2 separate regions of the Homo sapiens genome follow, and region 1 is linked to region 2. A link means that fine-mapping ties the variant in region 2 to the expression of a gene that starts in the linked region. Tissue or cell type: blood mononuclear cells. Region 2 holds a variant in brackets; the other region holds the start of a gene. All regions are shown on one strand. Distances are between the middles of the regions.

Evidence for each region. PIP is the estimated chance that this variant, and not a neighbour inherited with it, causes the effect.
Region 1: it holds the start of MLLT3, and the variant in region 2 is fine-mapped to the expression of MLLT3 in blood mononuclear cells (TOPMed, PIP above 0.99). The same link has a PIP of 0.9 or more in T cells.

The regions. Positions count from the first base shown.
Region 1 is chr9:20,617,737-20,625,836 of GRCh38, forward strand. It overlaps MLLT3 (MLLT3 super elongation complex subunit), which reads right to left and starts at 4,763. Exons shown (of 11, transcript NM_004529.4): 1 at 4,509-4,763; 2 at 2,918-3,098. The coding sequence starts at 4,520. RefSeq lists silencers at 2,712-2,831, 4,052-4,101, 4,172-4,321, 4,742-5,201, 5,222-5,361 and an enhancer at 2,992-3,121.
Region 2 is chr9:20,338,459-20,346,556 of GRCh38, forward strand. MLLT3 (MLLT3 super elongation complex subunit) reads right to left here. Exons shown (of 11, transcript NM_004529.4): 11 at 3,211-8,098. The coding sequence ends at 7,985. Among named protein-coding and RNA genes, the nearest start is that of MIR4473, 69 kb to the right of the region's middle. The variant C/T (reference allele first, on the strand shown) is at 4,100.

The DNA.
Region 1 (8,100 bases), 280 kb after region 2:
CCATTTCATCAAAATCTCTTTTCTAAGATTTTGTGCCATTAGTTTTAAATTGAAGGTCTCCCACCCATCTTTGTGACAGAGTAAAACCTCATTAATTCAAATCCAATTAGCTCAATTCTGAAATGGTATACATAATTCTCATTAAGCAACAAGTTAAAAATACTATAATTTTTTCTCCTACAAATTCTAATATTACTGTGAAGTAAAGGAAATCAACCTGAAAATCAATTCACTTTTCCAAACCAAAGATTTACAAAACTAAGGACTCTTTCATCTTTGTGGCTGAGCAGTTCATCCTCAGTCCTAAGGCTCATCTCTGTTTAGCAGCTACTGTATACAGTGAAAGTGATTTAGATTGTCACTATAGCCAACACAGCTTATTTATTATAGAATATGAGCATTTCTTTTAAAGATCTTATAACTCAGATTTCTCACAAATTCATATTTTCAGTTTCTCCAATTTCCAATTGGTAGAATTTTACTCTATCACTTATAGATCTACAATATAGCTAACATAACACTTTAAAAGGTACTGGAAGTAGACATACAAATTCTTGGCATTCTTATTCTATATTTATTCTTATCATTTTGAAAGACTTTATAAGCCAAAAAATAAGTCCCAGGATTAAGTGGCATGTTTGGTGTTGCTTGAACTTACAACTATTCCCAATGAACAGAGAAACCTTCTCTTGCAATCTGAATCATGTGTAATTACAGTATGACAAGGTCTCTCCTGGGTGATGTAAGCTGGCACTTTTCCCAGGACTTGTCACATCATGGGAAGCACGCATACAAATAAAAATCCAAAAATAAACATTTTAAAACAATGGCTTATAGACTGCATAGAGAACCTCCACAGTTGAGTATAAAAATTGAGGAATCCAACCAACAAGCAGACATCTCTCACCAGAGACCTCTGAGAAGTCATCACTGCTATCAAGCAGCTTACCACGCCTAGCAACAACTCCCAGGTGTGGCCTATGTGAGCAGCACCCTCATGTTCCCTCAGGGCAGACAGAAAATCATTAAGTATAGGAAATAAAAATAACATCAATGCACACATCCACTGAAGCAGAAAAACAATGGTAAAATAGAGGTTGATCATCTTTAATTTCATAATGCCAATTTGTTGATTGTCAAGGTGCCTAAACAAAGTTACCTTAAGAGCTACATCTTCTGCCAACTGAGTTAATTTTCCTAATAAATGTTGCTTTTTAAAAGCTTATTTCACCTTGAAGTGAACTGCAGCCAAGTAGTAGTAATAATGTGTACCAAGGATCTTAGAAAGTGGTTTCTTTTGTTTAAACTCCTCTGCTCTACAGACACATGGAAAGGGAGAGAGAGAATCCGAGAAGCAGCATATCAACCTCATCAGCGATAGAAATTTGACATCGCTCATCCTTACCACAGTTTGGAGGAAATATGAAATATAATAATCTCTGACTATATTTTAACATAAAATGCTAACAAATTTCAAATGTTATTTCCTATAGGCCATGCATATTTCTAGCCCTCTATAAGAAACTGGATTTATTTATTAACCATCCAACAAAGACCATCAAATTCAACCGTTCAAGTTTTCAGGAGGAGTTATAAACCAAACCACTAAAGGCAAAAAATACAATCCTACTTCCCATTACATGAGCTCTGGAAACAAAACTAAGCACCAATACAAACCTCTGCCACCTCTAAGGCACACGACGCTTCTCCTTTCTTTATTCAGCCCCCTGAATGTTCAATAATTTCCACACAGCTCTAAGCAGAATGGATTTATTATGATATTACTCTAAGAAACGACAGGAGTTCTAGATGCCAATAAAGATTACGGATCAAATGGAAGATAACTACTAACCATTGTGTCGACTTAGATAAATAAACCTGCTCACAAACAAAGCACCTTATTGTATTTGTACTGTTACCTTCACTAATCCAACTAAAACAACCAGACATTAGTTTTCCAGAGGTTGAAGGGAAAAGAAATCGGTATTTCTCAAACCCTCTTTAAATTTCTTTCAAAATGACACTCCGTTTCTTTTTTCCAAAACTGTCCTGCCCATTATGGAAAATGTTTGGGACCACAGAGGCCCAGTAGGATTATGCAAACTAGACTCCAAGGCTAAGAACCAAGGTGGGGAGGGACTAAAGCAAAAGGCTTCCTCCACATCGTTCCTCTTCAACTTAGCTTCGACCTTTGCAAGAACAGTCTCCCTGCAGATCACATCCGGCAGACACTTTGGAACGTTGCTCAGAATCAAAGGAGCAGTCAAGTGGCACGCGGGGGTGGGAGGGAGGAACGAGTAAGCCCCCCAAGTAAACATAAAATCCAGACTGGAGTGGGTGTGGCGGTGGCTAAGCCACAAAAAGAAAAGTCTATGGCAACTGGCACCTGGTGCCTCATACACAGACAGGAAAGCACAGAAGACCCTAAAGAGAACCGACTTGCCAAGACCGAACAATAACTACATCCAATACATTCTTTGCTAATAACACAGGTAAATCTTAATTTCTCTAGGAAAACACACACACACACACACACACACACACACACACACACACACGCGCAAAGTGTTTATTCCCTCCAGCCCGATTCCCCACATCTCCAAACTCAACAACTAATTGCACCTTCCCCACAGAACCCGCGGCTAACCCCAGAGGACTGGTGAGGGCTGGCTTGGGATGAATAAACACTCGACACCTGACGGTCCTTTCTCTGCGGTGACTTTCACCAAGCCGAAGTGGCGCGCGCGCGGGCAGGCGGGAGCCGGGACCTGGCCCGCGCGGCGCCGCGCACCCGGATCCCGAGGCTACGCCGGCGAGCGCGGCGCGGGGGGCGGGGAGCGGGACAGCGGGACCGCCCGGGCCAAGCGATTGTTTCAAAGACATTTTTTATCAAGACCCTTTTGTATTCGAGCCCTACCTCTTTTTGGCCTAGGAAAGCTTTCGTGCAAGTGGAAGACGACTTTCTCCACAAAGTGCTGTATGTTACTGTGCTCCGGACCGCGTACGAACACCATCCAGTCGTGGGTGAAGCCCTCCACGGTGGGTTTTTTCCTCACCTGGGCGCGGTGCCCCAGCTCCAGCTTCACCTGCACGGCACACTGCGGGCAGGGGGAGGAGAGACAGCCGTGAATAACAGGAAGGCGAGGTTTCGGCAGTGAACGTTGCGCCTGACATTTTTTTCCTCCTTCTTGAAACGCACATAAAAGGAAACGGCGGTGCCCTCTGCATCCACGTTTCACGCGCGTGGGCGCGCACACTCCACACCCCCAAATATACCCGCCCGCCCGGCCCGGCTTGGCCCCAGGCGCCCCGGGCCCCGCATCTACATCGGACAGGATTGTAACGGAATGTTATCCCCAGTCGGGAAGGGGGTCGGGGAAAAGAGGGAGAACACACTCAGCCACGACAAGCACGACAACAAATGCATCGGAAACAAATCAGAAGGCGATGCCGGGGCGGTTTCCCGGCGTGGGAGGGGAGGTGGCTGGGACCCAGGGGGACCGAAGGGCTCCTGGCGAGCCCCCTCCCCGAAAGTACCGCGGCGACAGGCACACGCCGAGGAAGTCTTTGTGTACGTGTGTGTGCGTGCGTGTGGAGCGCTGTGCCAGGCGAAATGGAAACTACAGGCAGCCTCTGCTGATGGGCACAAACTCCCGTGCTCTTGCCACGGGGTTCGTGCACAACAAAAATGAGACGTCGTCATACACACTGAAACACACACACACGCCCGCAGGAAAACACGCCGAGGCATCCATAACTTAGAGCACCCCGCACCCCCCAGCGAAAAGCCCCACGCGATCGGCGAGGCCAGTCGAACCGAGCCCCCGCAACACACTTTCAAGAGCCCAAGTGGCTCCAAAGTATCTCCCACCTCCCCCCAAAAAATGAAATTCAGAAAGGCAGGGCGGCGGGCGGACAGCCGCCGAGCCTCGGCTCGCGCTCAGCACCTCCCGGCGCTGGGGCAAAGTTGCGTGCGGCCCCGCCGCTGTCAGCCCCGCACACTTCGGCTCACACACGCGCGCCGCGGAGAACGCACCATCGTAGCGGCCGCGGCGCTTTGCGGAGGTGCGGCCGCCGAGGCTGCTCGCCGCGTCCCCGGACTGTGCCCGCAGCTCCCGGCGGCGGCGGCTGAAATATGGCTGAGTTATTATTCGCCTCCTTCCACCGTGTGTGTGTGTGTGTGTGAGTGCGCGCGTGTGAGCGAGAGGGAGTGTGTGAGTGCGCTTCTTGTGACTGCAAAGAGGCGAGGAGGGAGGGAGGCGCGGGGGGTGGAGGGGCGAGTGTGAGCGTGTGTGAGTGTGTGTGTGTCTGTGTGTCTGTGTGCGCGCCGGGGGGGGGTGGGGGAGGAGGGGAGCGGAGGCTGAGGGAGAGGCGGCAGCTCCCTGCAAGCCGTACCAACCTTTCTCTAATTGGAACCGCGGAGCGCTGGCGCTGTCTGGGCTGCGGCGGCGCAGGGCGAGGAAGGAAAGTGGGGGAGGGCTTTTATTATTATTTTTGCGCGTACTTACCGAGCTAGCCATGCCTGGGGGCCCGGAGGTTTGCTGGGGTGTTGTGTGGTACCCCCCCCTCCTCCGCCCCCCCTCAGCTGTAATTCATGAAGAGGCTGCTATGAATGAGAGCGCGCCCAGGAGCGGAGGGTAGATGGCGGACATTCTCTGCCTTTTTCCCCCCGCGCTCGCTTGCTCGCTCGCTCGCTTATTAAACTCAGCCCCAAAAGCAAAAGCAGCAGCAGCAGCAGCAGCTCCAGGGTAAAGAAGATGATTGCGGAGCATGCGCCGTGGCGCCTGACACCCGGGCTCCGAGCCTCACAGGGCGGAGGGAGGGCTTGCGGGCGGGGCGGAGCGCGCGGGGAGGCAGAGCGAGCGAGCCAGGGGGAGCTCGAAAGAGCCAATCACCTGCCACCTCCCGAAACCCCGGCGGCCCGCAGCGCCACACTGGAAAGCCTCGCTTAAAGTAACAGGTTCCTGCTGGGGGGGTGGCAGGGAGGGGACGCAGGAGTGGGGAGAGCGGCCAGCTGGGGAGCCATCCCAGCCCCTGTGTAAACTCTGCTCGCCCTACAATAAAAAACGGATTAAAACTGCTGGAATGTAGCCACTGCTTAGAGCCCTCAGCAGCCGGAGAGGGGGTGTTAAATCAAGTCCTTAGCTAGTACGCACGGGGAGGAGGGAGTGGGCTTTCTTTTACTTTCCACCACGTATTTCTGTGGTTTTGTGCTGAAAAGACAAGAACTCACACCCAAACAAACTTACTTAAAGAGAGCGAGAGAAATGCCATCCTGCAAAAAACGAGCATGAAAATAGCAATGACTGAGGCTGTTCTAACCCGCAACGATCCCCTGGCCCCCTGCCCCATCCACTCACAGGCACCCGCCCGCCACCCTCACTCCCCGCCCTTCTGCCACCGCCACCGAAAATTTGAAAATGAAATGAACAAGGGAGAAACAAGGATGCTATTTCCTTGCAAGGGAACGCCTTCCGCTTTGGTAATCCCCGGCTGGGAAGCTTCATAAAGCGGTGCCCAGGTGAAAGCAAGACACCTGGGAGTGCCGGGTACAGACCCTCGGGGACCAGGCTTGGAGTTGTTTTCTTCGGGGGGCTTCCCCTCCTGACAGCCTACTGAGTTGCATCAGAACGTGGAGGATTGTCCTCTGAGGACGCGCGGGGCAACCGGGAGTCTTAAAATAGCAGATAAAGTTAATACTGACTGTAATGTGCGTAAATTGGATTATAATCTTTAGGCGTATTGGTGACAACCAGCGTAATCCATCTCTGAGTATTAATCCGGTTAGACTCCCGGGTGACAGCCAGTCGCAGGAGTGTTCCCAGAGTCGCGCCTCTGCAAATGTTCTCACTCGCGTTGTATTTGATCTCAGTGGCCGGAGATAGAACAGCGCGGCCACGCGTGGGGCGCGGAGAGGAGTATCAACTACTGGCTTCCTTTACAGACGCAGATAACCTTTAAAAAGGAAACGGATAAGATCTAGACGATTGATTTGAAAGTGAAAGATGGATGTGACTTTGGTTCGTTAAAAAAAGATCCTTGCATCTTCCTAGCCCTTAGACCTCTTTTGCCTTCTCTTTACTCCCCTTTTTCCCTCGCCTTCCAACTTCTTGCTGAACCTTGATTTTTCCTTCTCTTCTCCTTGCCTTTCCTCTTTGTCCCTCTTTCTTTCCTCTTTGTCCCTTTCTTTCCTCTTTGTCCCTTTCTTTCCTCTTTGTCCCTCTTCCTCTTTCTGACTGAACTTCCTTGCTTTCCTCTTTTCCCTTTACTTCCCTTTTCCACAAAAGCAAGTTGTCTCGGCCCTTGAATTGAGAAGAGCAGAATAGCGGGGAGGACGTTACCTAGGGCGTCCTGTGTCCTCGCTGTTAATTTTCAGTTCTCCCAGCAGCTCTCACAAAGATCCTGGGAATCAGGTCGGACCACTTGGAACCAACCTTAGTTTCCAAACCAGCAGCCTTCCAACTCAACTTTTGATTCCCTAAAACTGATATTCCGCTGCCTGTCAGTTATAATCAAGAAACTTCTTTGGCTTGAGGTCCCCAGTTCTTCCCAGCCTTCTACAGGATTTAGCATAGAATGGAGCAAACGACTGAAGGTAGAAACATTTTAATCTAAATCCAAGGGCTTAGATTTGTCAACTGACACACATATACATAACTGCATATCATCCTGTAGGTATATGCGTCGCTGTGTCTGTATGTATGTACAAGGACTACGTTTATATTCGCAGAGACAAGCTGTGTGGGTAGTATCTACGTGAAGGGGGGACCTATTTATTGTGCATTATTAAACTTTTCATAAAATAATCAAATTTGAGAGCAGTCCTTTGTAATAATAGTATTGGAAACTAAAGGTTATCTGGACGTGCCATTAGTAAAGCCATTTCTTATTAAGAAGTAACCATTAACAGCGAGTGTAGCTCAGGACACAGGCAAAAAACAACAATCCCATTCCCCGTTTGAGTTCATTTCAGGGTTTAACTTCTTCCGGCGCCAGCCACCGGACTCTCTTGAGATTGTCTCCAAAACTTGTACCCGCACAACAGATAGAGGTCTCTTTTTTGAATTATGTGTTTGCTGAATTCAGATTTATTCCAGCAATCACTAATAAGCCATAGAGTCTGAAAGGGTATTTTCCCAGTACCCCTCCTTCCTCAAAGAATGCTCTAACAACCCAACGTAGTTACTCCCAATCTCCAAATACTGGACATTTAGATTCCGTCAGTAGATGGCGCACGGAGCTCTTCCACGGACGTCCTTACGTGACCCCTTCACAACAAAAAGATCAGGAAGGGGGAGAAAAGAAAGAAAAGAAAACACAAGACTGAATACTCTCCCTTCAACTTTGGACAAAGAAATTTATGCAAGTCTGTCAATTTATTAATTACAACCTATTTTAATAAGCTTGCCATTAAAAACAATTAAAATCGATTAATTTCCTGTGCAGATCTTCACACTTTAACGTGAGGTAAAAATGTGGAAAATAACCTTTTGTGTACTTGACAATGTGGTTATAGAAAATGTACTGTAAAGAAATTTTAAGACAAACTTCAGTGCTAAATACAGAAATAGTAATATAATAACTAAAATGGAAGTGGTGAGGGATAAAATCATCTACTTATCCAAAGAATAATTATCTTACCAAAATTCATACTGTTGTATATAGCACAGTATGAAGCACCATGGGGTTAGTTTGAAGATCAGAAAAGTAATTAACATATCAAATAAAAATCGTGATGAAGAATAAAAGAGAACAGTGTCTGTGACAGATCACTACCACCACTACCATCACCATTGCCCTACCACCATCATTTTGGCTCCAGCCTTTTTATTTGCAATTGTTTTCTTTAGTCTGGAAGCTAAAGCCAGTTTCCATGTTTCTGGCAGAACAAAGAGAGGGCCTTTAACGTGTAATTAGAGTGTTAAGGAGCATCCTAAAATAAACTTATCTATTTGTTGTGATAGATAATTGATGCACAAATTCAAATCAATAAAAATTTACCATTTATTTCCCGTCATTGCTGTATAGACTTGGGGAGAAAAGAGGAAGAAGAAGCATGGAAAAAACTAGAAAATGTGCCAGACTCTAAATAGACATTTT
Region 2 (8,098 bases):
CTCGAAACTACAGTGACCACATGCCCTGATTTGCCAAAGACAGCTTTGATTTATTCATGTTGTCCTGGGATGATTATTAATAGTGTCCCATTTCCTTCTCAAAAATGTTCCAGTTTGCCAGATCTAGTGGTATGGACCTGTAGTCCCAACTACTTCTGAGACCAAAGCGGGAGGTTCACTTAAGCCTAGGAGTTCAAGACCATAGCATGTTATTATGTGCCTGTGAATAGCTACTGCACTACAGCCCTGGCAACGTAGAGAAATCCTGTATGTAAAAAAAAAAAAAAAAAAAAAAAAAAAATTCCAGTTTGGCCAAAAAGTTACATGGTTAGCTAATCCAGAAAACCACTTCTAGAGATAGTAATAGCCGTGTTGTCCTTCTCTGAAACTGTGCTACCCAAACTATGTTATAAACCTTGAAGAATGAAATACAGTTTAAAAACGATTTTGAGGCTGGGCGCGGTGGCTCAGGCCTGTAATTTCAGCACTTTGGGAGGCAGAGGCAGGCGGATCACAAGGTCAGGAGATCAAGACCATCCTGGCTAACACGGTGAAACCCCGTCTGTACTAAAAATACAACAAAAAATTAGCCAGGCGTGGTGGCGGGCACCTGTAGTCCCAGCTACTTGGGAGGCTGAGGCAGGAGAATGGCGTGAACACGGCAGGTGGTACTTGCAGTGAGCCGAGATCGCGCCACTGCACTCCAGCCTGGGTGACTGAGCCAGACTCCGTCTCATAAAAAAACAATAAAATAAAATAAAAACTATTTTGATAAAGAAACATTATTTTAAATGCCAAACAGCTATTATTATCTTGCATAACTACTATTGTGTTACATACTGTTTGGGAAATATTGCATTAAATAAAGTTAAACAAGTTTGACTATTGGTGGAACATGTGGCTTTCCAAGATTTAATATTTTAGTACGTCATGAATTGCCAAGAGGGTCATATACTGGGCAATTTTTCCAAACTTAAACGCAAAACCATTTCTCATGAAATGTCAAAAGAGGTTCATGTTCCACAAAATGCTCCCACATTTTCATTTGATAAATAGAGGTGTCTCGTATGTCTTGGACTTGTTCTAGGTCCTGGAATCAGCAGTGAACAAACCAAACTTCTTGCCCTCAGGTGCTTCTGTTCTAGTGGGGGAGACAGATAATAAACATGGAAACAAATAAGTATTGTAATTTGGAAAACAATGATTTATCCCCCAACTGATTCAAAGTCAAAACTCCCGACATCTAACAATTCTGAGGGATATTCATGAAGCAGCCTGTCTTCAGATGTGAGTTGGCAATGATTTGTGTCTCTCAAAAGCCATCGTCGGGCATCGTGTTTCCTGAATAAAAGAAGCTTCCCTTAAGAAGTCTCCGCCTTTGAACTAAGCGCGCTTCATTTGGCATTCTCATTAGTATAGATGTGCTTTTGGGGGAGTCCACCTTTATTTAGATTGCTTGTGGACCGTATTCGTGTGTACCTTTAATTTAATGCTATTTCCTGTCCTAGCTAGACCGAGGTGTTATTTAAAACAGCGTCCCTTTCAAAAGAGATGTTAATAGGTGCTTAGCACCCAGGGAATACATTCCAACAAATGAAGAGTTATACATTCTATGCCACACATCCCATCCCCTAGGGCTGGGGTGGCGAGAGACAAGAAGGTTCATACACACACACAGACACACACACACACACACACACACACACACACACACACACACACACACTCCTACCCTCTGATTGGTTCTGTGCAGAATAGAGACTCACATTTAAATGAATAAGCCAAGTTAAAACTTTCCATCCTGGAACAAAGCAAAAGGAAAGCCTCTTTATGTTGCAGGGACTATAGATGCCACGGGCTGAGCCTGTCCCAAAGCTTCCCTCCACTGCTCAAAAACTAAGCCATCTTGCTGCGTTTAGCACTTCTCACCAGACCACCCACCCAGACACGGATACACAAACCACATGTGTGAGGAATGCTGTTCGGCTAGGAAATCAGTATCAGTATTTCAACCTTGTTACTTGCACAGACGGCCCTTTTAGTGCGACTCATTTGTTTTATCTTTTCAATAGCTTTGATTATTTTCTTTTAATGGCCTGGATTTATCCTTTTCTACCCTTTTGAAGCCTCAGAACTCTGTGGTGGGGACTGCATGGGGTGGGAGACATGACTACATGATTAAGGGGAAAATGAGCAAATAACGTTGTCTTTACTCACCATCTATCTCCCACTCCTTGTGGGCACCTCCCATTCCATGCGGACTGCCGAGTGCCCTAGTAGTCACCCTGAATTGTTATAAAAGTGGACTCAAGGAGCCTTCTCATTCAGGTCGAAGACTATTTGTGCTGTTATTTAAGAGCCATAGGGCCCAGTTATCATTATCAGAGTGTTTTCTGGTTTGTGCCGTATATTTCTCTCACTAGCTCCTAGGGACCACATTGGTTACCCTTCTTTAATTAAGGGGAAATTAAGACCAAGAGGCTAAGCTGAGAGCCAAAGGCAATTTAACAACCTCTGGAAAAAATTGGAAACGCCTCTACAGAAGGGGACCGCATAAACAGGAAGGTATGGATACTATTACCTGGCAGAGAAAGCAGAAGCTTTGAAATGTGCTCCGTGTTTTCTATTTGGGTGGTATCCCTGGCAAGGAAACCAATAAAATACCCTTAGTTGTTCTACTAATCAGAATAAAACAAGACCACTAGTTTTGGAGACTTATTTCCCTGAATTAGCAACCAGAGAGGTCTGGGGGTCAGGCTTGGTTATCTGTCATCTCTCTCCAGGTTTCCTTGCATATCGAAATGGGGCCATAAATTGGAGAGACAGGAAACAAATTATTGGGGAAAACCATGTGGTGCAGTGCACCCCTGGGTGAGTGTGCTTCAGCAGGGCCTGGGGCTGATCTTGACCCTTTCTATACAGTGGAGAAGGTGTAAGGCCATTATTTTAAATAAAATTGAGTATCTATGCCACAACAAGGGAACAGATTAGTCCAATCCAAGTATGGTCATTAGAAAGTTCTACTGCCACCCCAACCCATCTGGGACTGATGCTTCCACACCTAAACTCAGTTTCGGGTTGATAAGAGACAAAGCAGTCCCCTCTAATCCCCTAAATGGCTTGTCAGCCTGAATGAAGATAAAGTCAGTTTCTCAAATTTGATGTAAATCTCCTTACTATTAAGTAAGAGCATCACATCCAATTCCTTGGTTATTTACCAAACTGAATGTATTTTATTCTCTTTGTTGTAGTAGTTGTTCTCCTTCCTGTCTAATCAAGGTAGCAGTTCTTGCTGTGAAAGTAAATGCAGGGACTTTGTAAGATCGACTCTCTCTGGCTATAGCACATTGTTTCTGAACAAAACCCTCCAAAGAAATAGGGGGGAAAGAAAAAATACCGGGCACACATAGCCCAGTTTATGCCAAAAAATGTATCCCACCACTTCTTGTTCCAATCTTTGCAGAGTTTTAAAAATATTATATATATACTGGCTTTAGGACACAGAAGATGGTGTTAGACATGAGGGACTCCTAAAATGAATGAGGCATGGACTCTCTGCCTTCAGCTGGTTTTGGACACATTGTCCTCTCTCTGGATGTCTCAGATCTCCCCATCTATTCTTCTTTAGAAACAGCATCACTTCTTGAGAAAAGGCTAGGGGCTAATTTTTCCTGTATGCAAAATAAAGCCAAACTTTGGTCAAATGACTCTCAGCAAATCAGTACAATTATACATTTTAAAAAAGGTGCTGAAACAGATTATATGAGTTTAAGTAAAACACCTATTTCTATCAATCTGTACTTACATTTCAACATGGATTTTAGAGAAGGGAAATACATCTTACAGTGTGCCTTGAATTCACACAAAAGCATGTACACATACACAATGTATCTTTCAACATAACTACACATACACAGTCCATTAAAAAGATACTGACAGATTTATAAAATGTATTGGCCTTGCACTGTTAATCTCAATAATACATTTTCACTTAATTTATTTTTGCACTGCATGGTAGCTCTGGCCACCATTAAGGATCTGTCAGCATTTCCATCATAACTCTATTTTCAGAATACTGGAGTACAAGTGCCAAAATACA[C/T]ATTTACAGTTTACAGACAGCGGTGGCTTTGTCTTCCTTTTAAATTGACTTCTTCACTGCATCTTTACAAGGAATATTCAGGGATGGCAGTGCCTACATAATAAAAAGCATCATATAAAACAAAAGAGGTCAAAAGATGTAGACTTCCAGCCCGAGACTAAACTAAACCATGGGAATTGACTCCTTAACATTCACTGCAGCTGTAGTAGTCTCTACATCATATTCATAGTTTTAGAGCAACAGTCCAAAGCAAGATTACTCTGATAATATATATGTGTATATATATATATATATGTATATATAAATATAGGAGCAGTACATAGCATTAGTACACAAAACGCTAAAGGTGGAAAGTAATAAGCATACAGCAAATTACTCCAGAGCAGATCACTTCTACAGTGACAAAAATAAACACGAGCCACCAAACAGACACTGACTGTTTCCAACACTGGACATCCAACTCCATTAAGTAGGCAAAGTTAAAACATTTAAGAGTAAAGTCTCTCTTAAACAAATATATTAACTACATTTGTGGAGCTTGAAGTAGTAAATAGGATGTTATACAGGCCTAAAATTGTTTCTTCTCTTTTTTTTAAAGATTAGGTGGGCCTGTAAAAGATATCGGCAAAAAAAAAAAAAAAAAAAAAAAAAAAAAAATTTTGAAGAAACTTTTTAGTGGAAGAAAACCAATATTACTGGCTCTTTCCACCAAAAGGTGAATATTCAGATTAGAGAGATTTAAATTGCCTAGCAATTTAAAATGTTTAAGACACTCTCTTAAGAGATATTTTTTTCCTGATCTGAAGTTTTTATAGTCTTCCCTACCTTGACACTATATGAACGCATTTATAGACATACCTATTTGTCTGTATTAAGATTGAGAGAGAGGCAGATTATGCTGAGGATGGTGAAGTAACTGCAAAATATTGTTGCTAACATGACTGTTACATCCGAAGACAGAAGGAACCCCAAACCCACCAACACACATCCTGCTGCAAAACCAGAGGCAAAAGCTAAGTTATAAGGGGGCAGAGGGGCAGGAGCTCTGTACATATATTTTTTCCCCTGGCTGATCACTGAGGAAAAATTTTTTAAAAGTTTATCATACTCTGGCTGGTTCAAACCATATTCACATTTACCCAATTAATTTTATTTGAAACATCTATTTATATATGTACACCAAAGAAATTAAACCCTGCCATTTTCCCTTTGTGCTTAAGAAACCAGAGCCACTGTTAGGGTACTCACATGTCAAAGATATTCTTAATAGGCTTCAAAGTTGGGTGTATATAAATGTGACAGAACTGAAGGGGTTACTTTAAGAGAGGTATTAAAACTACTTGAAATTAATTCAAAGGGATCTTTTTATTTCTGTATTTAAAAATTAGATGAGAGCAAGATTACCACTTCAAAAAAAATAACGTAACTCTCAGTCTTAATTTTGTGAAAAACTTACTTTGCTATCTTGATGAGTAGAAGATGGATAAGTTTTTCTGAACTTTATCAATTTACAAACTTACATTTTAGGATATTCTGAAGAAATTAACTTTATTACCTAATTTTCAAGTCTAAAGTTTATCATATAATAGCTGTCCTTCTTATCATTATTTTTGTTTGGTCATTTCTTATCTTACCTAGCTTCTTGGTTAGTAACTTAAAGGAAAAAATTTTTACATTGGCAAATCATATTTTTTGCCCCACAATTTAGTTACAGAAATAAAAATGGCCCAAACTACATATATACGTTTCTAGTTAAACTACACAGATATATTAAATCACATAAACTTCTGGCTTGATCAGAATATGTGTTAGCAGTTAGAAATTTTAAAATATTTTAAAAATTTGCAACATTTCCATATAAACATTACCCTCCCCTTCCAGCTATAAAGTTAAAAACAAAACGCAACTGAAACCACACAATTCATCAATCACCTAATGTCCAAAATGACTCAAAGTTTCTCTGCACATCAAGAAGTGGACAATACAACAAATGCTTCAAGTACGGTTCATGCCAATCGTCATTAAGAATCATAACATTATTGAGAAAGTACACTTGTCCTCTGGGAGGACGCTTCAGAGAAATAATTTACAAGGAGCATGGCTGTATTATAATTTTTTAAAGGAAAAATAGTTTCTTTGGATAGAAAGAAACAGTGTAAAAAATCCCCTTTTTAAAATGCAGAAATAACTCCATTATCAATCTGCATTTATATAACTGCCCAAAAGAATGGGTCTGGAAAGACCATTTTCTGTACAGACACTAGTTAATCTCTGTATGAAAAGACAGCATCTGGCATGGGAACAAACAAGGGAGATACTGGTCTATTAGCACACATAGAGACTTTCTTAAGGCTGATCCAGTGACGAACCTTTGGATCCAGAAGTATTTCTTCATTTCTCTTCTTTTCGGCTGAATTTCTAGTAAAAACTTTGAAGATGAGCTGTTCTTACTTTTCATTTCTCCACTTATGGAGAAGATGGAATAATGACACCAAAAGTACTTTGGTTTTTTTCTTTTAAAAATAATTTGCTTTCTTTTGCATGCCACAGGACAGATTTCTAGTTTCAAAACAAGGGTACAACAAGAACAAAAAAATCCCCCCATCCCCAACCGTCTTTCACCAATACAAGAAATCCTTCTGGAAATATTAGCAAGCAACTAAACAGGTATTGAACCACTGAATCTACAAGTTAATACATAATCTGTTATGGCAGAATAACCAAGAATTTTTCCCCAAAGAAAGATTTTAATTTTTTCAAATATAAAAGTGTCTAAGAGAATCATATGTGAACAAACAAAAATCTCTGATTCCAGATTTTTAGGATAAAGATGAGTAACACACTGGCAGCTGAAGAAAGCTGAAACTCTGACTAATAAATAGATCCAAATTAAGAATTTCTACAACAGTTTTTTTTTTTAGAAAACAGGACCAGAATTCTTTTTTTTTAAATGATGATCCTGTGGAATGCCTTTACTTCCATATTCACCTAATATTGTAACAGTAAAACAGACACAAGAATGTTGATGACAGCTCAACAATGCTGGATTCAGGACATTTACAGGTACACTTTTGTTTAAAAGTCCTACAAGTTTATTGACTAAGGCTAGACAGCAATTCATATGATCCTATTTGGTGCATTTTCTACCATGGTCCAAGATCATTACATGGATACAGCCAAGGACTGGGCCCCAACTTTCAGGAAAAAGACCACAAAGAAGAAAATCAAGGTGGCTATTTGGTCCCCCCAGTTGATAATCTGTGTCCTGGAACTGGAAAAACAAAAGGTGGAAAATACAGACTGCAACGAGTTAAAGGACTTGGAAAAAGTTGGTGGAAAGTGGCACGGTATACGAGTAAGGTCACTGGGCTTGGGATGGCAAGGGTGCTGCATTGAAAGAGCATCCACGGGACCAAGTACTTATAATGTCTGATGGTGTCATTCCCTCAACGACTTAGAATATCTGTATGCGATAATAAATAGATCAGTTATGTAATAAGGCAGTGTGTTGAATATGCATTCGTCCTGTGGAATGAACCACCACAGAGAGATACATGATACCATACACATTCTTTGAGTTTTCTTGTGTTGTGTTTGATTTGTTTGTTTTCAAGGCTATCCAGGCTAACTCTTCCCGGGGATTTCCTTGGAGAGAAGAGTGGTCCGCTGAGGCTGGTTTGCTTTAACCTCTCCTTTATCAAGAGATGATGACTGGCTTTAAAGAAAAATAAAGCTGAAGGTTGTTTGATTTTTATTTTTTCCCTTTTGGTTGCATCATTTTGAGTGTTTTCATATAAACAACAAGAACAAAAAATCACAACCAAAAAAAAAAAAAACCAAAAAAAAAAAACACAATAGTTCTTGATGCATCCAGTTGTTATATCCTCAGGATGTTCCAGATGTTTCCAGGTAACTCTGTAGTTTACGGACTGTGGTTTTGTCCAGCGAGCAAAGATCAAAATCAAATGTTGTGTTTGTGATATGAAAGTGTCCAGTTTC